Linked DNA regions of Homo sapiens: region 1 is linked to region 2. Evidence: fine-mapped expression QTL. A gene starts in region 2. The other region holds a variant in brackets. All regions are shown on one strand. Distances are from middle to middle.

Region 1 (2,906 bases), 73 kb before region 2:
AGCTTTCTCCAGCTGTGCTGGTATGCACAAAGGCAGCTCTGCTACTTAGGACACTTTGTGACTCTAGTAAGGTATAGACTTGAACTGCAAGCAACTCTAAACCCTCCAAGAAGTGAAACATCTTAAGGCTAGACAAGGTAGAAAAAGGTGAGCACTAGCAAACCACATGGGCCTGCCCTGGAACTGTGCCACAGTCAAAGTACAGTGGTTAGTAGTCAGAATAATTTTTGAAGAGATTTTCTCCACACATGTCAATTAGCATTGAAGGGAGTTGATATGGACTGAACTGTGCTCCCCCTCCACCATCCACATATTAAAGCCTTAACCCCCCATGTGACTGTATTTGGAGATAGGGCTTTTAAGGAGGTAATTAAGATTAAATAAGGTTGTAAGGAAGGAGGCTTAATTCAATAGAACTTGTGTCCTTATTTAAAAAAAAAAAAAAGGGCCAGAAACAGTGGCTCACACCTGTAATCCCAGTACTTTGGGAGGCCGAGGCAGGCAGATCACGAGGTCAGGAGATAAAGACCATCCTGGCTAACATGGTGAAACCCCATCTCTACTTAAAATACAAAAAATTAGCCAGGCGTGGTGGCAGGCGCCTGTAGTCCCAGCTACTCGGGAGGCTGAGGCAGGAGAATGGCCCGGGAAGCGGAGCTTGCAGTGAGCTGACATCGTGCCACTGCACTCCAGCCTGGGCGACAGAGTAAGACTCCGTCTCAAAAAAGAAAGAAAGAGAAGATCAGGCATGGTGGCTCATGCCTGTAATCCCAGCACTCTGGGAGGCTAAGGCAGGCAGATCACCTGAGGTCAGGAGTTCGAGAACAGGCTGGCCAACATGGTGAAAGCTATCTCTATTAAAAATACAAAACTTAGGCGTGGTGGCACATGCCTGTAGTCCCAGCTACTCAGGAGGCTGAGGCATGAGAATAGCTTGAGCCCGGGAGGCAGAGGTTGCAGTGAACCAAGATCACACCACTGCACTCTAGCCTAGGTGACAGAGCAAGACTCTGTCTCAAAAAAAAAAAAAAGTAAAGGAAGAGACACTGGAAATACATGTACACAAAGGCACTATGAGGACACAACGAGAAGGCAGCCATCTGCAAGCCAGGAAGAGAACTCTCACCAGAAACCAACTCGACCAGCACATTGATATTAGACTGGTAGCCTCCAGAACTATAAGAAAATAAACTTC[T/C]ATTGTTTAAGCTACTCTGTCTGTAGTATTCTGTTATGGCAGCCTGAGCAGAAAAATACGGGGGTCTAATTTATAACTGTCCAACACACACACACACACACACAGAGAGAGAAAGAGAGAGAGAGAGAGAGAGAGGAAAACTTACCAGCAGAGAAGGCAATAGGAAACTAGGGCTGGCCCCTGCAGAATTCTTTCAATGGGCTCCAGGATAGGGGATGCAATGTCCGTGAATACTCCCTGATATGGTTTGGCTGTGTCCCCACCCAAATCTCATCTTGAATTCCCACGTGTTGTGGGAGGGACCCAGTGAAAGGCAACTGAATCATGGAGGCAGGTCTTTCCCAAGCTATTCTTGTGATAGTAAGTCTCACAAAATCTGATGGTTATTATAAGGGGGAGTTTTCCTGCACAAGCTCTCTTTTGGCCTGCTGCCATCCATGTAAGGCATGACTTGCTGCTCCTTGACTTCCACAATGATTGTGAAGCTTCCCCAGCCATGTGGAACTATAAGTCCAATAAACCTCTTTCTTTTGTAAATTGCCCAGTCTCAAGTATGTCTTTATCAGCAGTGTGAAAACAGACTAATACACTCTCACATTAGTAATTTTTACACCATCCCAACATAGTTATTATAATAGAAGTTTTTTCATAGGGTATTAGTACGTACAGGTCAACAAACACTTATGAGGCACCTACTGTGCCAAGCAGTAAGACAGGGAGTACAAAGATGATGATATCTGCCTTCAAAGACCTTATAGCAGGCTCACCAAGATCCTGGACTGAGCCACGCTCTGCCCACTCCTCCAGGCAGTTCATACTGTGCACCTGAATCATAAGTATTCCCTAATCCTACAGACCCCCAGCTCTCTGAATGGTTTGCTAGTGGACATCTTTTTCTACCTTGTCTTGCCTTAAGAGGTTTTACTTCTTGGAGAGTTTAGAATTGCTTGCATTTCAAAAAGAACCCAAGGTTCTTCATTTGCAGTTTTTCTTGTTTTTGGAAAGCAGAATGGTGGCTGGGAAGAGCTCTGGACATGGAGTTGGGTCTGGATGAGTTCCAGGCTCCCACTTCAAGCTGATGACCCGTCTGACCTAGTCTCAACCATAGGTAAATGAAGACAATAATACTTACCTGATAAAATGTTGTGAGGATTTAAAGAAATGTGTATACTTAAGTGCAAAGTTACATAAACAAAATGCAGTAGTAGCAATAACTATCACGTACAGACTATTCTCTACACACCAGGAACTGTGGTTCTTAGAGATAGAGAAAAAAAAAAGAAGTGTTTTTCCTTTTCTCATAGACTCAACAAAACATTCTGACACCAGGTGTTTGGGGATTTCTTCCCACACATCAAGCAATCAGTGTTCCAGCAGACACCAAATAAATGCCCTTTAATTCAATTCAACTCTGATGCTATCAACCTGGAGATAGCATCAGGCCCCACAGGTTAAGGGCTCCTCTCACAAGACTGCCTCCCACTTCAGATGCCAATTGCAGGCCCCAGGTTGTGACCTGTGCTTCTGCCCAAAAGGCTGTAAATCAGGGTTCCCATGACTTCCTCCCAGGGTTCGATTAATTTGCTACAGCAGCTCACAGAACTCAAAGAAACACCTTACTTACATTTACCCACTTATTATAAAGGATATTCAAAGGATACAGATGGACTGCTGGATGGAAGAGATGAATTGGTCAAGGTGCAGGGGAGGG
Region 2 (2,906 bases):
AACAACAGCGGAATTACGTCTCAAAAAAAAAAAAGAACTGAGGCACAATTCATATAAGTAGAATGTTTATTTGGGGCAAGTTTGAGGATTGCAACCCAGAGCACAGATTCAAAATGCCCTGAGTAGCAGCAGTTGCAAGTGGGTTTTTAGAGGAAAAAATGGCAGTTCCTAAATTGTCTACCAAGAATTTACATTAAAATAACACAAGCGATTGATTGGCTATACATCATTCTTTTCATGACAAATTCCAGGAACGCGGACATAATGGGTGAAGCAGCTAGTCAGGAATAAAATGCCAGGCATTAAGTGGGGAGGTGTCTGAAGTCCCATACTGCTGTCTCTCTGGGCCCGGCAAATTTTGCACATCTCAAATAATTAACAATGCTCCGAGCCATTCTTCTTTTCTCATATAGAACAAGACTCACGAAAACCGACAGCAGCAGCTTTAGGAGGCCCAATACAGTCCGTTTTCCGTACGAAATGAGTTTAATTTATTGTGACTGCTCCAAAAGAAAAGTGCGGTTCATCTAATTTTCTTCCGAAAAGGAAGTTAAGGACCAGAGTTTCTTTGACCCCCTTCCCCCCACCCACCTCCTCCATTTTCCAGCTCTAGAGAATGGCTGGGGCAGCGCGCGACGTTGTAGCTACGGTTACGACCCGCCCCGTTCCTTCTACGAGAACCACATCAGCGTAGTATCACTTTTCCCCTCCGAAGCACAGTCACCCGTCAGCAGCCTCGAGGGCTGACGTGTCCTTATCAAGCCGGCGCGCCCCGCGATTCTATAGCCGCCATGCCTGAGACCTTTTTCCTGAAGGGAGAAGCCTGCTCTCGAACTAAGGCCGGCGAGGGCCATAGGTCTCGCCTTCCCTTTCCTAAGAAGGCCTAGTCCTACCCAGGATTCTGAGCAAGGGAGGCTCCTATTGGAGCCGCTACAGCCTCGTTCTTAGCTTACCGAGAAACAGCGCCCGACACCTGGCCCTTCGCAGCTCTCGCCTTTCGCAGCTCTCGCCTAACAGGAAAGGGAAGAAACAGGCGGAAGTGGGAACTGCACCTGAGCGACAGTACTGCAAACCAATAGGCAGCCGGCCACGGCGGTCAGGCGCCTTCGGTCGCGTCTGGAAAGCACCAACCAACGGTCTAAGGGGCGGGCCGGAGGGGTGTGGGCCGGAGGGCCGCGGTGTGCCGCGGGGCAGTTGCGGGTTGTCATAACGGTCCCCGCCGGAGTGAGGCGAGGCCGCGTCGCTCAGTTCTGGCCGTCTAGGGCCCCTGTAAGGATGAGAGCGCAGAGGACGCAGGGCCGCTGGAGGCGCAGGTAACGAAGCTAGGGTGCGGTTGGGACCGCGGCTGAGCTTTTTCCGGGACCCGTGGTGCTGAATGGAGAGGACGGAGACGAAGCCGAGCCGCGGCTCCTAGCGGCGGCGCCGATGCTCGAGCTGTAGCTGCCAGGCGAGGATGTGTGGAGCGCAGGCGGCGCGGGGTAAATGAGAGGTCTCGGGCCCCAGGACCCCCGGGGCCCGGGATGAGTTAGCGAGGGCAGCCGCGGGGGCCAGTTCCGACCGTGACAGGCCAAGGCGACGGCCGCCGCCCGCCCGCCCCTTCCGTGCAGAAGCAGCTGCTCCTTTCCGCGCCCGCCCGCCTGCGCTCCCGGCCCTGGAGACCATGAGGTTCCGCATCTACAAACGGAAGGTGCTAATCCTGACGCTCGTGGTGGCCGCCTGCGGCTTCGTCCTCTGGAGCAGCAATGGGCGACAAAGGAAGAACGAGGCCCTCGCCCCACCGTTGCTGGACGCCGAACCCGCGCGGGGTGCCGGCGGCCGCGGTGGGGACCACCCCTCTGTGGCTGTGGGCATCCGCAGGGTCTCCAACGTGTCGGCGGCTTCCCTGGTCCCGGCGGTCCCCCAGCCCGAGGCGGACAACCTGACGCTGCGGTACCGGTCCCTGGTGTACCAGCTGAACTTTGATCAGACCCTGAGGAATGTAGATAAGGCTGGCACCTGGGCCCCCCGGGAGCTGGTGCTGGTGGTCCAGGTGCATAACCGGCCCGAATACCTCAGACTGCTGCTGGACTCACTTCGAAAAGCCCAGGGAATTGACAACGTCCTCGTCATCTTTAGCCATGACTTCTGGTCGACCGAGATCAATCAGCTGATCGCCGGGGTGAATTTCTGTCCGGTTCTGCAGGTGTTCTTTCCTTTCAGCATTCAGTTGTACCCTAACGAGTTTCCAGGTAGTGACCCTAGAGATTGTCCCAGAGACCTGCCGAAGAATGCCGCTTTGAAATTGGGGTGCATCAATGCTGAGTATCCCGACTCCTTCGGCCATTATAGAGAGGCCAAATTCTCCCAGACCAAACATCACTGGTGGTGGAAGCTGCATTTTGTGTGGGAAAGAGTGAAAATTCTTCGAGATTATGCTGGCCTTATACTTTTCCTAGAAGAGGATCACTACTTAGCCCCAGACTTTTACCATGTCTTCAAAAAGATGTGGAAACTGAAGCAGCAAGAGTGCCCTGAATGTGATGTTCTCTCCCTGGGGACCTATAGTGCCAGTCGCAGTTTCTATGGCATGGCTGACAAGGTAGATGTGAAAACTTGGAAATCCACAGAGCACAATATGGGTCTAGCCTTGACCCGGAATGCCTATCAGAAGCTGATCGAGTGCACAGACACTTTCTGTACTTATGATGATTATAACTGGGACTGGACTCTTCAATACTTGACTGTATCTTGTCTTCCAAAATTCTGGAAAGTGCTGGTTCCTCAAATTCCTAGGATCTTTCATGCTGGAGACTGTGGTATGCATCACAAGAAAACCTGTAGACCATCCACTCAGAGTGCCCAAATTGAGTCACTCTTAAATAATAACAAACAATACATGTTTCCAGAAACTCTAACTATCAGTGAAA

Which allele goes with the higher level. Alleles are on the strand shown, and positions count from the first base shown. SD is a standard deviation of normalised expression in the study named.
For the expression in esophagus muscle of the gene that starts at base 1,191 in region 2, allele C in region 1 goes with a higher level than allele T (small effect, 0.20 SD a copy in GTEx).

Evidence for each region. PIP is the estimated chance that this variant, and not a neighbour inherited with it, causes the effect. A credible set is the group of variants that fine-mapping cannot tell apart.
Region 1: its variant is the best candidate, but not a certain one, in a credible set for the expression of MGAT2 in esophagus muscle (GTEx, PIP 0.70).

The regions. Positions count from the first base shown.
Region 1 is chr14:49,547,030-49,549,935 of GRCh38, forward strand. It overlaps LOC107984701 (a long non-coding RNA gene), which reads right to left. Exons shown (of 3, transcript XR_007064154.1): 1 at 2,820-2,906. Among named protein-coding and RNA genes, the nearest start is that of RPS29, 38 kb to the right of the region's middle. The variant T/C (reference allele first, on the strand shown) is at 1,196.
Region 2 is chr14:49,619,609-49,622,514 of GRCh38, forward strand. MGAT2 (alpha-1,6-mannosyl-glycoprotein 2-beta-N-acetylglucosaminyltransferase) reads left to right here and starts at 1,191. Exons shown (of 1, transcript NM_002408.4): 1 at 1,191-2,906. The coding sequence starts at 1,661. RPL36AL (ribosomal protein L36a like) reads right to left here and starts at 1,018. Exons shown (of 2, transcript NM_001001.5): 1 at 954-1,018. RefSeq lists enhancers at 793-902, 1,291-1,841 and silencers at 1,063-1,272, 1,573-1,682.